Regions from separate parts of the Homo sapiens genome. Here regions 2 and 3 are each reported to be linked to region 1. The links are microRNA targets in miRTarBase. Many come from high-throughput screens and were not tested one by one. Region 1 holds a microRNA gene; each other region holds the end of a gene's coding sequence.
The links. Region 1 holds the annotated microRNA hsa-miR-6894-3p (UUGCCUGCCCUCUUCCUCCAG, at 3,390-3,410, opposite strand). A microRNA usually pairs through its seed, bases 2 to 8, with sites in the 3' UTR of a target mRNA and lowers its output. Matches are read on the target gene's strand: a 7mer-m8 pairs with bases 2 to 8, a 7mer-A1 pairs with bases 2 to 7 and ends in A, and an 8mer does both.

Region 2: miRTarBase lists FAM180B as a target of hsa-miR-6894-3p. Seed matches in the 3' UTR shown: 7mer-m8 at 2,112-2,118.
Region 3: the mRNA of FOXH1 is a reported target of hsa-miR-6894-3p. Seed matches in the 3' UTR shown: 7mer-m8 at 4,218-4,224.

What each region holds. Positions count from the first base shown.
Region 1 is chrX:53,195,500-53,201,587 of GRCh38, forward strand. MIR6894 (microRNA 6894) reads right to left here and starts at 3,446; the gene lies at 3,390-3,446. KDM5C (lysine demethylase 5C) reads right to left here. Exons shown (of 26, transcript NM_004187.5): 14 at 6,051-6,088; 15 at 3,478-3,659; 16 at 3,265-3,389; 17 at 2,991-3,138; 18 at 2,272-2,377; 19 at 1,187-1,545; 20 at 417-555.
Region 2 is chr11:47,586,590-47,593,660 of GRCh38, forward strand. FAM180B (family with sequence similarity 180 member B) reads left to right here and starts at 89. Exons shown (of 3, transcript NM_001164379.3): 1 at 89-264; 2 at 1,162-1,232; 3 at 1,450-2,605. The coding sequence starts at 180. The coding sequence ends at 1,845. It overlaps C1QTNF4 (C1q and TNF related 4), which reads right to left. Exons shown (of 2, transcript NM_031909.3): 2 at 3,078-4,226. The coding sequence starts at 4,221. The coding sequence ends at 3,232. RefSeq lists silencers at 794-994, 2,619-2,819.
Region 3 is chr8:144,469,346-144,476,416 of GRCh38, forward strand. It overlaps FOXH1 (forkhead box H1), which reads right to left and starts at 6,504. Exons shown (of 3, transcript NM_003923.3): 1 at 6,238-6,504; 2 at 5,812-5,916; 3 at 4,067-5,711. The coding sequence starts at 6,411. The coding sequence ends at 4,893. KIFC2 (kinesin family member C2) reads left to right here. Exons shown (of 18, transcript NM_001369769.2): 11 at 1-34; 12 at 145-302; 13 at 2,597-2,701; 14 at 2,793-2,914; 15 at 3,016-3,139; 16 at 3,232-3,361; 17 at 3,450-3,706; 18 at 3,787-4,857. The coding sequence ends at 4,044. RefSeq lists a silencer at 3,097-3,156 and enhancers at 4,059-4,954, 4,955-5,848, 6,745-7,071.

The DNA of each region.
Region 1 (6,088 bases):
TGGGCTCAGTCTTGAGGGATTAAAAAAATAGGTGTCATCCTAAGGAACAACCACTTGGCTCTCTCCCACAACACCGGCATCTACTGACTGGCTCAGCCCCAAATATCTAGTCAGCCTTCTGTTGTGGTTTGCCTCTTCTCCTCTCCTCCATGCCCCTGCCCTGCTCAGTCCCATACCACCTGCTTCCCTGGCCCACCAATCTCATCCTAACCAGTGCCCTCTCTTCCTTCAGGCCAGCCTCACACTCTTCCTCTCACCCTGCTCATCAGGCACATCTTGCCTCCTGACTACATGCCATGCCCCCTTCCTCTCTCCAGCCAACCCAACCCATCCCAGCAACCCAGCACATCCCAGTGTATATGCCATCTCTTCCCAGCTGGACTGAAGGCCTGGGGTGGGAGTGGCAGGGTCCTCACTTGGATCTCATCAACATCAGCAATCCAGGCCCGGGCCTTAGCAAGAGCCTCCTTGAGAGCCTGGATGTTGGGCAGGTGAACAGGGATGTTTTCCGCTTCACGGATTATGGCCTCAAGTGTGGCTGGTGGATGCTTCTGCCTAAAGGTAAGGAAAAAAAGAACGCTCAGTCTGATGTGGTCTGCCTGACCAGAAGCCCAGCCTGACCACCAGATATATCTGCATGGGCCCCTTGGGTGTCTGTTATTCCTGCTGTCACTTGGGCCTACTTGCTTGTATTCCACCTAAGGGTAGCTGCCAGTCCCTGCTTCCCCAAGACTGCATGCACCCAACTTCATCCCTTCTGCCACAGCTCTTGCACCTCTGTTTGTCTGCCAGTCTGCTGGCCTGCTAGCAATGCCTACATATACAACCTGTATTGTGTAATCTGTTGCTGCAGTTTGTCAACTGCCCTGTGTGGGGTCTTTCTACCAACATCTGCCCATCTGCCTGTCACTTGTGCTTCTGGGTATGCGCACATTAGCCTGTAGGGCTAGTCTTCTAGATAATCTCTATCTGTCCATTTCTGCTTCTCCATCAGCCTCTCTTTGCCTTTAAGTATACAGAGTTGTTTTTTAAAAAAACGACAAGATAGACAACAAAAGAGGGGAGAGTCAATACAGTAACACAGGAGCGTGATACCTAAGGCCACCCATGGGCATCCTCTTCTGGGTCTCCACTCAACTTTGATGTTTGGAATAGGGCAGGGAAGGGAAGCAGCAGCTGGACCTACCTGGCCTCCAGGCAGAGGTGGGCTTTCTCCTCCCAGCGTTCAGCAATGGTCAGCAGTTCCTGCAGCTCGGCCTGGGCTTTATCCACAGCAGGGCTAGGGGCTACACTGGCACCCGCGACCAACAGTCCTCGCATGACAGCCAAGGTGCCCCTTCGGGCTGAGGGGGCCAGTGTGCGTTTCACCTCATCCAGCCATCGCGCCTGTTCCACCTGCCGCTGGAGCTGCTGGGCCTCAGGCACCTCCACCCCCAGCTGCCGCCCCCTCTCCAACAGGGACTGCAGTAGCCCTGGACTGGAGGGCAGTGAGGCCAGGGCCTCACGAGCCTCAGCCTGGTAGGCCTCCACCTGTTCCAGAACACCCTACCAGGACACAGGATGAAGAACAAACTCCTCAGCTGGGCCCACTGAGGGGTTCCACCACCAGATGGAACCTTGTCCCACCTATCTTCTTACCCTCCAAGCTTTTGGGGCAAAGGAGCCTAACATGGGCTGAGCTCTCCTTCTCCAAGCCCTAAGACAGTTGGGGTTCCTAACACTGACTGCTCATTAGAATGCCCTGGGGAATTTAAGAATGCAGATTCCTGGGCCCCACCCTGAGAGATTCTTAATTAACTAATAATTATTAATCTATGCTTTATTTAACTTTTCAGAGGGCTCTGTTCTCAGGGCACCAAGAGACCTCCCTGCCCTAAAAATTGCTATGATTAGTCCTCACATAAACCCTTGTGCTCACCACCCTGGGGTCTGTTGCCCTCTCCATCTCACTCCTCCTCCACCTTCATGAATTTCCCTCCACTTTCCAAGCCCAACAAGCACCCCTGTTACCTCCTTCTCCTCTACCCCTCCTCCAGGAAACCTTACCTGGACTCTGTATCCTATACCCATACCCTTGCCACCTGACCCTCAAGGCCCATTTCTAACAGACAAGTCACTAGACCCTTGCCTCACCCCTCCCACCTGTTCTTTTCTCACACGTGTGTCCTGTCTTGCCTGAACACTTTAAGCTTTTGAAAGGAGCCAAGCATGGCCTGCTGCTCAGGTCCCCTGGTCCCCTTGATCCCTCATCAGCACTCCAAGCGTCCTCACCTTGACATCCCCAATCTGGTGCATGGCGCAAGGCAGGTTGTTCATCTGGTCCAGAAAGGCCCGGAGCTCAGTCAGGGTCATCTGTAGACCAGCCACCCTGTGGGGGCTATGAAGTATCACATGTGAGGTTTCAGGTCCAAACTCAGTGCCTTCCCTCCATGTCTATGCTAAGACTGAACACCTTTCCTCACTACACCTGTCCACCTTGATCTCGCATATTTCAAATTTGCCCCAATTGCCCAGGTTAGAGGGAAGGTTTTAAATTATAGAGCATGTTCATATTATGAGGGGAAAGAATTAGAAACTAATGGGTTGTAATAAGAGCTACACTTTGCAATCCATCCTCTACTGTGAACTCTAAAGCTGTGTTAGCAGGGATCAGGTCTATACATCTTTGTCCTGTTCTTACCCGTAAGCCTCCCACAACTCTTCCCTGCCCACAAAACCCCTCAGCCTCTCTCTCAGGCCACTTCCAGGTACTGATAAAAAATAAACACTTCTAGCTTTCTTATCACAGAGGCTCTCCTCTCCTTTTTAGGTGGCCTGGTCTCCTTGTCCCCCCCAACACCTTCCAGGCCATCTCACACTCTTGTGCCTGGCAGCTTCCTGCTGATGTCCATTCTGCCAAATGGTATTCACAGTCTACCCCTTGCAGCACTTTTCCTCGGTGCTGGATCCTCAGCACCTTATGTGTGCCCTAACTCCTCACGCTGTCATACCCAGCTTCCTGGCCGCTGACCAGTCCCAGAGCTCGGGACACGCAAGCCTCTGCCTCACTCAGGCAGTTCTTTAGTTGCTGCAGCAGCTCACTATTAGGAAACCTCCGCTCACGGGCTTCAGACTCTAGTGCCCTCAGTTCTTCAAGGCCTGGAAGAAAAATGAGGGCAGCAAAGAGTAGGCAGTATTGAATAGAGGCAGAGGAAGGGGGTCAGAGTACAGAAGAAAGGGAATAGAACTTGCCTGTGGAGTCCCTCCATCCCCCCCATCACTCACTGCGCTTCCGCCCATCCTCCACCTCCAGGGCCACTCGCACTTTGTTGGCCCAGGTGTCAAAGGACTCAGCCCGAACCTTCAGCTTATGCAGCATGGCAGGAAGCTCATCCAAGGTATACCGATACCTGGAGGAAGAGGGCAGGCAAGAGCATGTCTGGCCCAGCTCTCCATCCTCCTTCTTGCCCCACTTCCTCCAGAAAGGCCCATGCTCACCGCAGGTACTGCCGGCTACTGGAGCACTTGCAGAGATCATTGATGTGGGAAAGGCAGACAAGGCCGTCTGGGCAGTCGTAGCAGGCCAGGGCTGACAGGAAACACGTAGTCTTGCACTTGATACACTGGCGCTCATCATCTGGGAGCAGCTCGAAAGCCTCTCGCTCAGCCTCTGTGATACCCTAAGGGCATTTAACCTATGCGTTATATATAACCAGAACCAGGTAGCAAAATCCTCCATCTCAGCCACCACCGACCCCTACTTTAGATTCAAATCTATGCTGAGGGTCATGGGGTTTAAGAGGCCAAACCCCAGGGAGCATACCTGCCCTTTGTAAAGTCTAGACTCTCAAAGCTTGGGGAATCAGATAAACCAGGGCAAGATCAGTGTGCGCTGAGTCAGATAATTTTATAGAGGAAGAAAAATCAGGTAAGATCCAGATCAGCAGAAAGGGTCTTGTGGGTGAGAAGTGAGGAAAGTGGTGGACCAAGATACCAGAGAGGTGGCAATGAGTGCAAGTGGCCAAGGGACAGGCCTGGCTAGTTATGTGTACTGGGGAACAATATCGGCTTCCAGTTACTCAGAGCCCACTGTGTTCCAGGCACCACGCTGGCCACTTAGTAGGCAGGAGATACTTGTGCACATATATAACTTAGAGAAATTCAACCGTATGTGCTTGTGTTCAGGGTTTAAAGAGATATAATAATTTTCTCCCAACAATATGGTTTCCAAACCTAATCCAATGACTTCATCTGTTGCTCAGATAAAGAAAAAGCAATCCATTTCAAAAATGAAGGAAAAGCTGGCTATATTGGAGTAATCGAGAGACAACCCAGTGTGTATATCTAATGGGCAATTTTAGGGATTTTAATGGGAAATGTCAACTCTTAACAGTTTTTGTCTTACATACCAACTTTAACACCTAATCTCTGCATAAGTTATGAGCCCAAATCCCACTCTGCCACTTATATGCTGTGTGATCATGAGTAAATCATTTAACGTCTCTGGGTCTGTTTCATTATCTAGTAAGATGGAGATAAACAGTATCATCCTTGTTGGGTTGTTATGAGGATTAACAAAAATAAAGCAGCTATGGAATCAGACAAGTATCTCAGCACTTAGATTCAGTGTTCATCAAATATTTACTGTTATTAGCTCTAATTTTCAGATAAGAATATATATTCCACAGGCCTATCTCATTTTACTAAGGCAGAAACTAAGTCTCAGGGTCAGTAACTTGCCAAACTGAGTTAATTTTGACTCTAAAGCCAGAGAATATTCTAAGGATGAAGTCTCTAGGGTTTTTTTGGACTACAGACTCCTGAGAATTGGATGTAAACTATAAGTCCTCTTCCCAGAAACATACTTAAATACACATACAATCTCTTACAGGATTCCAAGACTATGGTGTCCAGAATGCTTCTCTGAGGTAAGGGCCAAGTGTGAAGAATTCTGAATGTCAAGATGAGAAGGTCTATTCTCCCCACCTTGCTTTGGCTCCTTCCCACAGCTTGGCACAGCCACACGGCCATCATTTAATAACAGTACTGAACAGAGTGAGAAAATGATGCCTGGAAAAGCCCAGGGACTCAACAACTTACACCACGACTGAGAGGCCCCAGACTTCCAACACTACTGTAGCTATAGTTCTCCCTATAGCCCACACTCACAGGAAAGCTATAAATGAGCTTTAAAATAAGAAAGTATTACCCTAGATAGGCAGCAAGGGATCCCACAGAACCAGCACTCCTTTGTAATCTTATGAAAGACTCTCACAAAGTCAATTCCCTAACTGGGCAAGTGTGAAATTTGAAGATGATGGCTGAAACTACACGAGTGGACTTTAGAGCTCTGTAGCAGCTTCCACTCAGCTACACACACAACTGACACAAGCTTACAAGAAATCAATTAAAGCAGGACCACCTTCAGCTTGGTAATATTATTGCCCTAGCTGGAGTTAATAAACCATCTGCATGTAATAAAATGGCAATTCCTGAGAAACATTCCAAATTTCAATCAGTTTCTTCATGTATTAACATTACCAATAATAGCAGCTGCAACATTGCAAAGGCAATGTTAGAGAGATGGCTTTCATATAAATCACCTTACTCTAACCTTACATCTTGCAAGTTAGGTATTTATTCCCACTTTAGAGTAGGAAAGTGAGATATGAAAGATCAAGTAACTTGATACAGTCACCTAGATAATCAGCAGTGAGGTTTCATATGCCAGTCTATTTTGCTAGGTCATGTAAATAATGATAAATAGCTGCTATACCAGTACCTGCCATGGGTCAGTCACTAAGCAAACATTATCTTTAATACAATCAACTATCCAAAAAGATAAGCATTATCATAATCCCATTTTTCAGAGGGGAAAACTGACAATGAAGTAAATCGACTTAAGGTTGCTGGTAAAGGGTATAGCAGAGAATGGTATGTGGTTTTCAATCGAGATGCATCTAGTTCTTTTCACTATACGCCAAGAGTAGAGGCTACATCTTCTTGGTGCTGCCTCTGCCTCCCCGAACTTCCACCAGAATAGGGTGCTTGATCTGGGGTACTCTCCCCACCTTCTCCAGCAGGGCCTTTCGTAGACGCCGCTCTTCTT
Region 2 (7,071 bases), not on the chromosome of region 1:
AGCCCCTGGGAGGTGACCGAGGCCACAGCCAGCCCCTCCCTGTTCAGCACTGAAGAATGACACGCATTACAGAGCTCTGGAGCAGCCCGCAGTGGAAAGTTGGAGCTGAGGTGTGTGGCAGGCAGATGAGGGAGCAGAGAACTGCTGAACAGAGTGAGACTCAGAGGACGTGGTTGAGCATGGCTGCGACCCTGCAGTTCCTGGTTTGCCTGGTGGTAGCCATTTGTCTCCTCTCTGGTGTGACTACAACCCAGCCCCATGCAGGTACCAGGCTTCAGGGTGGGTGGAGAGGAGCCAAGGCTGCTGGCTGACAGCAGTTAACAGTTGGCTCTATTTGAGGCTAGTCGGGCATAGAAGCGTGGGCATGGTGGGTACCAGGCTGATGTGTGCTGTGGTGGGTGACAGTGTGGGCCCCACCCCCAGAACTGGAAAGGTACAGGTGACACCTAGGGAGATAGCCCTAGGTGCTCTTAATGCTGGCCCTGGGCTCATTCCCACTGATGCCCAAAGCAGGGTCTCTTGACCTGCCTGGGCTTGGAACAAACATTGCAAGGGTGAGGCAACACCCCAAGGTGTGGGCCGGACGGAGCTGCCACAGACATCCTCCCCTGCTCTGTCCTCCCTGCCTCACATCCTCCCCTGCCCCGTCCTCCCTGCCTCACATCCTCCCCTGCTCTGTCCTCCCTGCCCTGTCTTCCTCCTCCCTCCCTTACTGCTGAGGAGGAGCAGGGAGAGTAGGCTCTTTCCAAAGAGGTCTTTGTCCTTGGGAGAGTCACTGGCACTGTTTTAGGTGACTTTATCCTCAGATGACTATAGGGAGGGGAGGAGGGTGGGGAAGGGTCTTGTGACCCGTTGGCCTGGAGCTCTTTAACAAGGGCATTGTGCAATTTAAAGGAGGTGTCCTGGGCATTTGCCAACATGGTAACTGGGCTTGGAATGATGCTTTTGAGATCAGAGGACCTATGCCTGGGAGGGTGAATGTCAATGTGCATGTGTGTGCGTGAGAGGGAGGGGAAAGGAGGGCATGGGATGGCATTCCTGCCCTTTTGTAGAATGATGAAGCACTCGGGACCTCTACCAGGCAGCAGAGGGGCACTTCTGGGAGGCTGGGGTGTTCATGGTGTAGCATGGCAGGGGCCTGACTCCTCTCTGCTGCCCCAGGGCAGCCCATGGACAGCACCAGCGTGGGAGGTGGCCTGCAGGAGCCAGAGGCCCCGGAAGTGATGTTTGAGGTCTTTCCTCCCAGCCTGGGACATGGGGGTGGGCACGTCCAGAGGTCCCTAAGCTCAGGGTTGGGAAGGGGGATGTCTCAGGGTGGACCTGCTAGGGTTGGGTGGGGCAAGCCAGCATGCGTCCTGCTGCCTGCTTCTGCCCCTTCCCCCAGCCCACTCTTGCTCCCTGCCCTGCTCCCCAGGCCACAGCCCACCCCTTACATGGCTCCCCTTGCAGCTGCTCTGGGCTGGGCTGGAGCTGGATGTCATGGGGCAGCTGCACATCCAGGATGAGGAACTAGCGTCCACACACCCAGGCCGCCGACTCAGACTCCTCCTGCAGCACCACGTGCCCAGTGACTTGGAGGGCACTGAGCAGTGGCTGCAGCAGCTCCAGGACCTGCGGAAGGGGCCTCCTCTTAGCACTTGGGACTTTGAACATCTGCTCCTCACAGGCCTGTCCTGCGTCTACCGGCTCCACGCAGCTAGTGAGGCTGAGGAACGGGGCCGCTGGGCCCAGGTCTTCGCTCTCCTGGCACAGGAAACACTCTGGGACCTGTGCAAAGGTTTCTGCCCCCAGGACCGGCCCCCTTCCCTGGGGTCCTGGGCCTCCATCCTTGACCCCTTCCCCTGACCCTCCTCTTTTGTTCTTTCACCTGCCATTACCCCCTCCCATCTCCTCCTCAACCCCCCAGGCAGACCCATCTTGCGCAGGGGCTTCTGTCTGGCATCTGATTCTTTTCACCGTGTTCAGATCTCTGGGCTTGGCTTGCACCCTGGACACCCCCTCTCTGCTTACCCCGACCAGATCTTGTTTCCTAGATCTTGAGAGGCTAAGAACCCAGGCTCTGGGTCGCAAGGAGTGCGCAAGGAGTGGGCACAGAGCTAAGGGCACGACTTGCAGGCAGTGTGTGTGTGAGTGTGTGTGTGTGTGTGTGTGTGTGTGTGTGTGTGTGGAGATCAGGGGTCAGGGTTGAGAAGTGTGTTCAAGAGATGCTGAAGGGAAGCTGCCCCAAGTAAGGCCTGGTCAGACCTTCCAACTCCTACCCTGGCAGTCTGTGACAGGTCCTGTGGAATTCACAGGAATCCTCTAGGTGCTGAGCATCCCCTTTTAGGCACAACCAAGGATTTGGGGTCTCTGAGCCTCCAAGTTCCCATCTGGGTTGGGAGAATCGACTTTTTGAGTTCTGTCAGTTGGAAGAGTGGAGGGAAGCAGGGGGAGGGAGGAACATTATCTCTTTTGGGGTAGGGAGGCAATATCTCAACAAGCGTCGGGTGAATACCTCAGAGGGGGGAGTAAGGCTGGGAGACCAAGGAGAGACAAGCGGAGGTGGGCTGGAGCAGGTGTGGCCCTGATTCTGTGTTGCTCTTCTCATAAAATGTTCTGTTTCGGCCTCCTGGAGCCTGTGTCATTCTATGTCGGAATAAGCGTCTAACCCCTGCTCTGGGCAAATCACTCTCCCCATCCCGGGAAGGCAAGAGTCAGGGCAACCAGGTATCAACTCCTCATCTCATTCCCACGCCCTGCTGGAAGAAGGAATGCACTGTTTCCTTGAATCCCATGCACCCTGTGGGGTAATGGGGTGCTGTTCCTTGTCACAGAAAGGCATCAGCCGGGGGCTAAGGCTGAGGTCGTAGGTCAATGATGAGTCAGAGGGCTAGACGAGGTAGGGATATAAAAGGGAGGCCCCCAACGGACTAGGCGAATGTGGTTCCATCAAATTCCCACCTCCTCACCCTCCCAGGGTCCAAGGGGACCTTGCTTTCCAACCTCCAACCCCTTCCCCGGGCCTGCGGGCCCGCAGTAGTCAGCACCTTCCCGCCTGCCGCCGGCGAATGCGTCGCAGTCAAGACAGCGCAGGGGCCTGGGCTGCCGGGCGCTGCGCGTGCCCGCTTTCCGCTTTATTGGCAGAGTCCAGGCGCGCCCGGAGGCCGTGGCGCTCGCGCGGGACTTTCGAGCCTCCGGCCCGGCCTGGCATGCACGCCCCTGGCCCTCCCGGGCTCTTCTCTGGCCCGGGGCTCACAGTAGCTCCGAGGCCCCGAGGCCCGGCGGGGCGGCGGGGGCGAGGTCGGGGTACACCAGGAAGCCGGAGAAGGTGATGTACTTGCCGTGGTTGCTGTAGGCGCCGTAGCCGTCGTGGTCGTGGCTGAGCAGCCAGACGGCGTCGCCGCGCCGCAGGGCCAGCATCACGCTCTGGCTCTGCATCTCGCGGCGCCGCGACGCGCCGTCGTCGTAAATCATGGCCTGCACCTCGTCGCGGTTCTTCATCAGCTTAACCGACAGCGTCTTACGCGGCAGCTTGCCCAGCGTGAAGGAGAAGAAGTAGGCGCCGGGCAGACGGCAGCGGAACACGCCGGCCGCCGCGTCGAAGTCGCCGCCAATGTTGACGAACTCGGTGTCGAAGGCGAGTGGTTGGTGCCGCGGCCCGGGGCCAGCGTCCGAGCCCACCAAGCTGCGCGTGCGCGCCGCCGAGAAGGCCGAGCGCGGCTCGGGGGGCGCGGGCGGCCCGCGCGCAGGCGCGTCAGCGTCGGCGTCGGCGTAGACTAGGTAGCCGCTGAAGGTGGCGCCGGGCGCGCCTAGCGCGTACTGCGGGGCGCCATGCAGCCGCAGCCACACTGTGTCGCCGTAGTCGAGCTGCAGCATGGCGCTCTGGCTGGCTGCGCGCCGCGCGCCTGGCCGCCGCTGCTCGTCGAAGGCCAGCGCCTGCACCTCGTCGCGGTTTCGCACCAGCATCACCGACAGGCTCTTGTGCGGGGCCTTGCCAGCCGTGAAGGAGAAGAAGTAGGCGCCGGGCACGCGGCAGCGAAACTGGCCGGTGGCCACATCGAAGTCGCCCCCGATGTTCACGTACACCTTGTCGAAGGTCACCGCCATCTCCGACGTGCCCTCCAGGGGGGTGGTGCGTGCCGCCGAGAAGGCCGAGCGCAGCTCAGAGGATCCCGGGCCGGGGGTCGGGCCCAGGGCCCAGCAGGCCGCTGGGCCCAGCAGGCCCAGCAGAAGCGGCAGCATGGCGCCTGGGAGGGAGACGGAGGGGCGAGAGTGGAGTGTTGGCAGGGGCGGCTTCCAAACGCCCGGCTCTCCACCGGGAGACAAGGGTTCTCTTCCCAGCCCTGCCCTTGACCCACAAGTAGGTTTCAATTTTCCTACATCCTTGGATTCTCAAACTCTAGCGAGCCTCACTGTCACTTGGAGGGCGTGTTCAAACATACATAGTTGGGCCCCATCACCAGAGTTCATTCAGTAGGTCTGTGATGGGCCTGATAATTTGCATTTCTTTGTTTTGTTTGTTTGTTTTGAGATGGAGTCTCGCTCTGTGAACCAGGCTGGAGTGTAGTGGCACGATCTCGTTTCACTGCAACCTCCACCTCCCGGGTTCAAGCAGTTCTCCTGCCTTAGCCTCCTGAGTAGCTGACATTACAGGTGCGCACCATCACGCCCAGCTAATTTTTTGTATCTTTAGTAGAGACGGGGTTTCACCATGTTGGCCAGGCTGGTCTTGAACTGACCTCAAGTGATCCACCTGCCTCAGCCTCCCAAAGTGCTGGGATTACAGGCGTGAGCCATCGCGCCTGGCCTTGAAACCCCGCCCCCCCCCCTTTTTTTTTTGAGACGGAGTCTGGCTGTGTCGCCAGGCTGGAGTGCAGTGGCTTGATCTCGGCTCACTGCAGCCTCCACCTCCCAGGTTCAAGCGATTCTCCCGCCTCAGCCTCCCAAGTAGCTGGGACTACAGGCTTGCACCCAGCACACCCAGCTAATTTTTGTATTTTTAGTAGAGACAGGGTTTCACCATGTTGGCCAGGATGGTCTTGATCTCTTGACCTTGTGATCCGCCTGCCTCGGCCTCCCAAAGTGCTGGGATTACAGGCGTGAGCCACCGCGCCCGGCCGAAACCCCTTTCTTAAGTGAAAGCTTGAACACAGACTAGCAGAAACACTCTGGTTAAAGAGGCCTACAGCCCTGTCTGCTGGGCTTGCCCCTACACCTCCCATTTGACACTCAGGGGCCCTGGTAACCCGGGGGATTCAGGGGAGTCTCTGAGTTCCCCTCAGCTCCAGTTGGCTGCATTTTCCTGTGGTTATTTTATGGTCCTTGGTCTGCCACTCACGCAGGCACTGGCTCTCTGTGTCAACGCTCTGCATGACCGTTACTGTTTAAGCCCCATCTGAGCAGGAAAGGAAATCGCTGCTCCCTGACCCCTTTCCTGGCCTCACCAGGGGCCCTTCCTGCACAGAGGAGGCGAGAACAGTTGGGCTTTGAGGTAGCTTCCTCCCCCTTGAAATCAGAGTAAAAGAGAAGGTGACTCCTTTCTCTTTGCTTGGAGGCTGGTTACTCAGAAGAAGGAGTGGCGAGCCAGGGGCTACTGGGGATGGACAGGGACAGCAACAATTCCAGCAGGGCTTTGGCAAGGCTGTGAAGTCAGCAGCTTTGTTCCTTGGGAGTGATGGATTGGAGAGGACAGATAGCCAGATCTGGGTTCAGGTCCTGGCTCTACCACTCACACTGTGAAACCTTGGGCAGGTTCCCTAACTTCTCTGGGCATGGCTTCCTCCATGTAAATGGGGAAGAGACCTCACACACAGGCTTGCTGTGGGGGTGTGCTGAGATAGGTGTGAACATGGTTTGTCAACGGCAGTGCTGAGGTGTGCAGATGCTTCTGTCGGTTGCCCTGACAAAAGTGATCTGGTCCAGTTCTTGACGTAAGGGTTTAGGGACTCAGTCACTCCTACCCCTGAGAGCTTGGTGAAGGCACTGCTTAACTCAAAGGAGTCACTCTCTGATGTAGGGATTCCATCCTGCTTCCTAGTAGGGCACGTGCTTTGGGGCTTGAATACCCAAAAGCCCTGATGTGGAAACAAAACAGGAAAGAAATGAGCTGGAGACAGCCTGGGATGTGGGCTGCTTTAGAAAATGCCCTGTATGTGTAGCTCTGTGTCTCTTAGAGACAGCAGGGACCTGCTGAGAAGGGTTGTCAGGTGTAGATGTGCAGAACGTCCCAGCTAGAATCTAGCTCACACTCCACATGTTAGAGCAGCACCTGGCGTAAAGTATGCCACCTTCTCATTCTCATACTAAAGACCCCAAGTTGCTAGCCAACTGAATGCTGTCTCCTTCCAGAGGAGGTGCTTTTTGTAATTCTCACAAAGGTGTCCTATGGATTAGTTAGGTGTCCCTTGGTTAGGACAGGGAGGAGGGAAGGGGCCATCCACAGTGGTGAAGATGGCACCTCACAAGTGTCCAGTGCATTCCCTTTTACAAAGTTCTTTTAGACACATGGTCTTGGCAAACCTACAAGACAGGTGGGCCGTCTCCCATTTTATAGATGAGAAAGCTGAGGCCCAACAAGGGAAAGCATTTTGGCCCAAGGTCACCCATGGAGCACTGAGGTTTTTTGACTCAAATTCCGTATGCCTTCCTGTCACTCTTCCCTCCTAGACACAGGTATGTCCAGCCAATTTGTTCTGTGCCTCAGTTTACCTTTTTGCAAAACTAGGAGAGGAGATCAGAGGAATGAGTCTTGGGATCCAGGGTGAGGAAGACAGAAAGCAAAACCAAACAAAAGCAAGCAAACACATTCTCTAGTGTTTTGTCTTCTGGGAACACGGAAAACAGCTCAGCTTTTCCATACCGCTGCTTTCCTAGTGGGTCCTGCCCCAGAAGCAGCTGCCCAGCAACCTCCTGACCAAGGCTGGTGCACCCCACCAGTGCCAAGGGTCTTCCTGTGCACCCAGTACCCAGCCTCCGTTTCACCCACACTGCCCAATTCCCAGATCCCTGGATCCTCGTCCTTCCCTGAACCCCCTTCCCTGAGCAGGTCAGAGGTGTGGGAGGGTGTGTCAGGTGGGTGTCATAGCTCCAGGG
Region 3 (7,071 bases), not on the chromosome of region 1:
GCCGGATGCCCAGGGCGGCTGCCAGAACTCAAGGGTATGACAGGCTTGGGAGCCTAGCGGGGCAGGGAGGGCGGCTGGAAGAAGTGCAGCTTCTCTGTGCTTTAGGGTCTGCGAGGCATTATGCTGACCTGATCCCCACTGCAGGAAATATCCGTGTGCTGTGTCGGCTGAGGCCAGGGACATCTTCTAGCCTTGTGAGTGTGGAGCCTGGCCCAGGGGGCACCGTCACCACCTGCTACCGGGGGCGCCATCGTCGATTCCGCCTAGACTGGGTCTTCCCTCCAGACGCCAGCCAGGAGGAGGTGACAGCCTGCCTTTGCAGCCATCCTGACCCTTTTTCAGAGTTCCCTGAAGAGCAGGAGAGGCTCCAGTTTCCCCTTCCCAGTCTGGGTGTCCACCTGGAGGAGAGAGGGTGGCTGGGCTCTAGCCAGGAAGGAAAGGGAACCGAGGGGGCTGGGAAGCAGGGCAGGCAGCCCAGCTTGGTGCCTCCTCCTCCCAGGCTTCACTGCCTGCCCACTCCCCTTTGCTGGGGTCCAGGGTTTGCCCAGCTATGAGGGCCCCTCATTGCTTTATGGCCCCAAGGCAGGCGGTGGGTGGTGGGGGCCGTGGGTGAGGAGGCAACCTTCTAGTCTTAGTGTGCTCTCTCTGCCTTGCCTGGATCCCACTCTCCTTCCCCACCCTTTTCCTGCCAGACACCTGTGGAAAAGCAGGGGCTTCAGCCCCAGCCCACCCCACTTTCACACACGTTTTCATCTGCACATGCCCTTTGCTGCTACAGCTCCCATAGCTAAGGAGATGGCAGCTCAGAGCCAGGGGAGACTAGGTAAGGGGCAGAATGGCAGCGACTCCCAACCAGGCTGCCTGCCAGCCTCACAGGGACAGGGGGACGACTGCCCAGCAGGTGGCCAGGGTCACCCTGATTGCCTCTTTTCCAACCACTTCTTCCTTCATCCCACACATCCCTCTGGCCTTAGCCCCACCCCACACTGCAGCACTGCGCAGGGCATGCCTTGTGCACCGTCCTCTGGACAGCCGTCCTGGACAGGGTCCTCTCAGTCAATGTGTCTGAACCAAAGGCATCTGTGGACAAGCCCCTCATCTGTGTTCCTGTTTCTGCAGTGGTGCCATGATGTGCTCCTGAATGTCATCCTCAGTGCCACCTCCATCCAATCATGGAACCTCAGTGACCACACAGAACACAGAATTCTAGATTCTAGCCTTGTGGCTGTCTTCAAACAGAGCTGACAGCCCACCCTGTTAGCAGCGACCTTCTGGGCATAAAAGCCAGCCATGTTGTTGCTCAAAAGACTGTTGGTGTCCAGTGCCAATGGGGTGAATGTCCTAACCTTGTGTCTCTCTCAGCACCTGTCTGTGCCTGGGCTCCAGCAGGCCTGGCTGGCCACCATCCCCCGTACCTGCAGGCCCTTCCTGGGGTCACGCCTTGTGAGCCAGGTACTGGTGTGGCCGGCCCTCTAGGTGCACTGCCACAAGTGTTCACAGCAGGTGCCACTGCAGCCCTTATCTCTCAGGGGAAAGTGAGGCACAGGAAGGCCAATGAGTAAGCTCCAATCATACCCAGGTTTGAACCGTGCAGTCACGCCCCAACATCTGGGCTCTTTTTTTTTTCTTTATTTTTGAGATGGAATCCCACTCTGTTGCCCAGGCTGTAGTGCAGTGGTGTGATCTCGGCTCACTGCAACCTCCGCCTCCTGGGTTCAAGCAATTCTCCTGCTTCAGCCTCCGAAGTAGCTGGGATTACAGGTGCGTGCCACCATGCTCGGCTAATTTTTGTATTTTTAGTAGAGACAGGGGTTTCACCGCGTTTGCCAGGCTGGTCTTGAACTCCTGACCTTGTGATCTGCCTGCCTTGGCCTCCCAAAGTGCTGGGTTTACAGGCGTGAGCCACCTCGCCCAGCCCATCTGGGCTCTTTTAAACATTTTTAAAATTTTTTACTACATATATATGTATATGTATTTTTTTTTTTTTGGACAGTCACACTTTGTCATCAGGCTGGAGTGCAGTGGTGCAATCTCAGGTCACTACAACCTCTGCTTCCTGGGCTCAAGAGATCCTTCCACCTCAGCCTCCCGAGTAGCTGGGACCACAGATGTGCAACACCATGCCTGGCTAATTTTTTTGTAGTTTTTGTACAGACGGGATTTCACCGTATTGCCTAGGCTGGTCTCAAACTCCGGAGCTCAACCAATCCACCCTCCTTGGCCTCTCAAAATGCTGGGATTTATTTTTCTTTTTTTCACGTTGGCTTCCACATTAAGGACACCACACCTGCGCTCTTAACTGCTGTCCCCAGGTCTCCTACGTGGTCTTCAGGACTCCAGAGCCTCTGCATAGGCTGTTCCTCTTCTCATTGTGTCTTTTCCCTTCTTTGCCTGGCAAATTCTTGCAAGCACCACCTTCTCTAGGGAGACAGAGGGTCTCTGTAGGACACACCCTCCCCCATGGTCCCTTAGAGCCATCCTCCCAGGAGACTAGGCTCTGCTCACACCTGCCTTCGTGGCACTCCCCACCCCACCAAATAGGGCATAAACAGGCAACGTGGGGAGGACTCAAAACACATTCTCCCGCCTCCCGCAGGTCTTCAGAGAGCTGGAACCTGCGGTGCTGTCCTGCCTCCGAGGCTACAGCGTCTGCATCTTCACCTATGGCCAGACAGGCACCGGGAAGACCTACAGCATGGAGGTGGGACAGAGCTCACGCCCCAGTGGGAGAGGCCCCAGGGGCCCTGCATGACTTGGATGTGAGCCCGGTGTGCACCCCACCCCATCCTCAGGGCCCTCCTGAGGACCCCGGCATAGTTCCTAGGGCGCTGCAGTCGCTGTTCCGGGAGATGGGGGCCGGCCGGCAGCACCGGGTGACACTCAGCATGGTGGAGATCTACAATGAGGCTGTCAGGTGGGCTACTCCACCAGGGAGGCCTTCTCCCCACCCCTGGCCCAGGGCCCTTCCGGATTTCCAGAGAATTCTGGAACCAAGACCTTCCCCTTTCTCACCAGGGACCTCCTTGCTCCAGGGCCTCCCGAGCGCCTGGCCGTGAGGCAGGGCCCAGAAGGCCAGGGCGGGATCCAGGTGGCTGGCCTCACCCACTGGGACGTGCCCAACCTGGAGACATTGCACCAGGTAGGGCTGCACCGCTCTCCGAGACCCCGCCCCGTGCTTCCACTTGGGGGCGGGGACCCTGCACCTGACCAGCCCTTCGCCCCGCCTTCCAGATGCTGAAACTGGGGAGGAGCAACCGGGCCACCGCCGCCACCGCCATGAACCAGCGCAGCTCCCGCTCGCATGCCCTGGTCACGCTGACGCTGCGCGCGGCGTCTCCACCGCGCGCTCCAGGCACCGCAGGTACCACGGCCGGTGCCTGAGCCCTGCGGAGTCTCCAGAGCACCCGAGGCCCGGCCTTCCCCCATGTCGGGCTCGCTCGCCCCTCTAGGCACGCTGCACCTGGTGGACCTGGCGGGATCCGAACGCGCACGGAAGGCAGGGGCGGCCGGCCCGCCGCGGGGAGACCCAGACGGCGCCCGGCGCCTGCGGGAGGCCCAGACCATAAACCGCTCGCTGCTGGCGCTAGGAGGCGTGATGGCCGCACTGCGGGCCCACCGGCCGCACGTGCCCTTCCGCGACTCGCAGCTCACGCGACTGCTGCAGCCGGCGCTGGGCCCAGGCACCACCGCGGTGCTGCTGCTGCAGGTGGGCGCCGGGGCGGGGCAGGTGTGTGCGTGCCGGTCGCCGCCCACCCGGGCCCGCCCACCCGCGCCTCTTGCCCGCAGATCTCCACGCGGCCGGAGGATCTCGGGGAGACAGTCTGCTCCCTCAAGTTCGCCGACCGAGTGGGTCAAGTGGAGCTGGGGCCAGCCCGGCGCCGCAGGGTCCCGCGCTCCTCCGGGACGCCTTCTTCCCTCAGCACCGACACTCCGCTCACCGGGACCCCCTGCACCCCTACGCCGTCCCCTGGCAGTCCTCCATGCCCCAGTCCCGACAACGGCTCGGGCTCGGCTCTCGCGCCCGCAGAGGGCCTGCCCCTCTAGTCCTGGGTCGCGGCCCTGCCCATGGGGTCTCAGGCCAGGTCTCTGCTGGCAGAGGCGGTAGTAAAGTCCCTGTACCCCGTCTCCCAGGGCACAAGCTCCCTAGCCTCTTTGGATCCATTGCCCCTGAGCTCCCAGAGTCACCCCTCCACCTCCGCAGCCAGTGAAGTGTGTTGTGCCTGCTGAAGTGATCACCCCCCGCCCCCAGCCCTGCATCAGGCCACAGGTCTTGGCTTTCTCCTTATCACCATTTGCTGTTATCACGGCACACAGCAGGGAATCCCAGGCCCCCCCGCCAAGTGGTTACCCAAGTCACCACTCCTGACCCAAAAATCAGGCATGGCATTAAAACGTTGCAAATTCCTTTACTGTTATCCCCCCCACCACCAGGACCATGTAGGGTGCAGTCTTTACTCCCTAACCCGTTTCCCGAAAAAGGTGCTACCTCCTTTCCAGACAGATGAGAGAGGGCAGGACTTCAGGCTGGATCCACCACTGGGCTCTCCCTCCCCCAGCCTGGAGCACGGGAGGGGAGGTGACGGCTGGTGACTGATGGATGGGTAGTGGGCTGAGAAGAGGGGACTAGGAAGGGCTATTCCAGGCTCAGCCCTGCTCCTGCAGCTTTGCCGCTGAGTGTAGGAAAAACAGGCATGACAGACCAGGGTGAGGGTTGTGCCCAGCTGGGCCACGGCCATGCGTGGGGTGGCCCAATAAACACCGTGGACTCCCAGCAAGGCTGCTGCCTGGTGTTTCGAGGCTGCTGTGGTCGCAGACAGCCGCCTCGCCTTGGCTCCCTGTCAACAAGGTGGGGGTGGGAGCGGGAGGGAGGAGTGGCCCCTGTCTTAAGAGCCTCACAGGCTGCACCAGGAGAGCAGCCAGCCTGGGCCAGGGGCCGCCAGGTCCCGAGGGTGGCTGACCCAAACGTCGTAGATGCTTTTGTTGGGTGGCACCCCTTGGAAGAGGGCGTCTAGATCGCAGAGCAGCCCTGGGGGCCCTCGGGTTTCAGGGGCCACCCCCCAGTAGGCAGGGCTGGTTGACGGACACTGGGGACAGGAGGTGGGTGGTGGTGCCAAGGGCATTACCACATTGGGAGTGTAGATAGGCAAGTAGGAGGTGGGCAGCTGCCCCCAGAGGGAGGCCCTGTGTCCCCCGCTGGACCGTCCCCCAGGAACTGCGGTGCCCTGCAGTAAGTGGAGAGGCCAGGCCCTAGGCTCTGGGGAGAGGGTTGAGGGCCCGATGGCTCCCCCCTGCACAGTCTCCCCCTCCACTCTCGTGGGGCCAGGAAGGGGGCAGAGGGGCCACAGAGGCCTCTCAGAAGAGGGAAGGGGTGGGGTGGGCACCGCCTCCTCCCCACTGTTCCCTGTGCCTGCAGGAACTGGGCTGCTCTGTGGAGCTAGCCCCGGCCAGGGTGCCCCCTCCCCGGACCCTCCTAGCAGGGACTTGATGCTGAAGCCCTCACTGGGTGGTGGCGGGGGACTGGGCGGCCGGTATGGCCGGCCGTGCAGCACGTAGGGGCCCAGGTCCTTGGCGAAGGCTCCACGCGCACCTCCGTTCTGCCAGCGCCGGCACAGGGCGGTGTTCTGCAGCCGGAGCGCCTCAGCTGGGATCAGGCTCACGTCGACCGCCCAGAAGTTGCCCTTGGCCTGGGGCTTTGCAGGGTCCTTGGGCACCTGGGTGTGGGGGTCAGACATGGGTGGGGCTGCCCAACCTTGGATGCTCAGGACTTCCGCGCGCGCTCCGCCCCCGGGCTCCGACCCTGGCCTGCCCCACCTTGCGGAAGCATCGGTTGGAGGAAAGGTTGTGGCGAATGGAGTCTTTCCAGCCCTCGTAGTCTTCCCTGAAGAAGGGGAACACGGCCTGGACCTGACGGATGATCTGAAACCGCCAGGCGGCCGGCCGGCGCCGTGAGCCCAGACGGGGAGGGGGTAGCGCCCTACCCCTCCCCCACTACCGGGCTCAGGGGCGCGCGGTGCCGGCCCCTGCTGTCCCCGAAGAAGGACATTTCTGCGCGGAAGCGCGGCAGAGAGGGCAAGGGGCTCCCGGAGAAGGGTCGTGCCTTGAGGCCCTCAGCTCTCAGGACTGGTCCCACTGGCATACCTGGGTGGGCTAGGAAGGGGTGGGGGTCAGGGCTTGAACCTGGAAGTGGGTGGGGAACGAGTCTGGGGAAAGAGAGAGTGGGGGCCGGGGCCCGCTCACCTGGGCCAGCTTCAGTCTGCGGGAGGGAGCGGCCTGAATCACCAAGGCGATCATGGCCAAGTAGGTGTAGGGGGGCTTGTCATGTCGCAGGTACCTCTTCTTCCTCCTCTTAGGGGGCTGGGAGGGCGACTCTGCCTCTGGGGGCCCCAGGCGGGAGCCGCTGCAGGGCCCCATGCGGGACGGTAGACAGCGTGGGCAGGGGCCTGGCCGGGTGGAGGGTGCAGGGCGGTGGGGCAGTGTAGAAGGCAGGGCCGGGACCTGAGGCCGGGCTGGGGCAGGCGGGCTGGGGCCTTTATCATTCGGATGGAAGGGGGAGGGGAGGGAAGGGAGGAAGAGGCTGTGGGGGAGGGGAGCATGCCGAGGGCTTCCACAATTAGCAGGTTTTGGTTAATCTGGAAGGGAGGGGCAGAGAGCATTCTAGTGGGGGCTTCTCCTGAGGCCTCAGTCTCCACCCCTGAGTTGCCTTTGGGTGGCCAGGCCCGGCTTCAAAGGGGCTGCGATGACCCATGGCTACTTTATCCCGTCTTCCCTGGTCAGGTTTCAGGACCCCATTTAACAAATGGGGGAGTATTTAGCCCATGCCAAGCTCCCAAGGCGTGGGGCGCTCCTGGAGTTCAAGATCTAGCAGCTGCTAGTAGGCCCTGAACTATGGGGGCTGGATATCCACCCAGGACATGATCAGGTGGAGCTTCCTGGAGGAGAAGGCCATGAAGCCCGCACCCTAGGAACAAGAGGGGGACACATTGACTCAACTGATTTCCTGGGAGTTGCTTCAGGAGCCCAGGTGGACCGCTCACCTCCTCCTCCCTAGCCATCTCTGCTCCTCCACCCAAG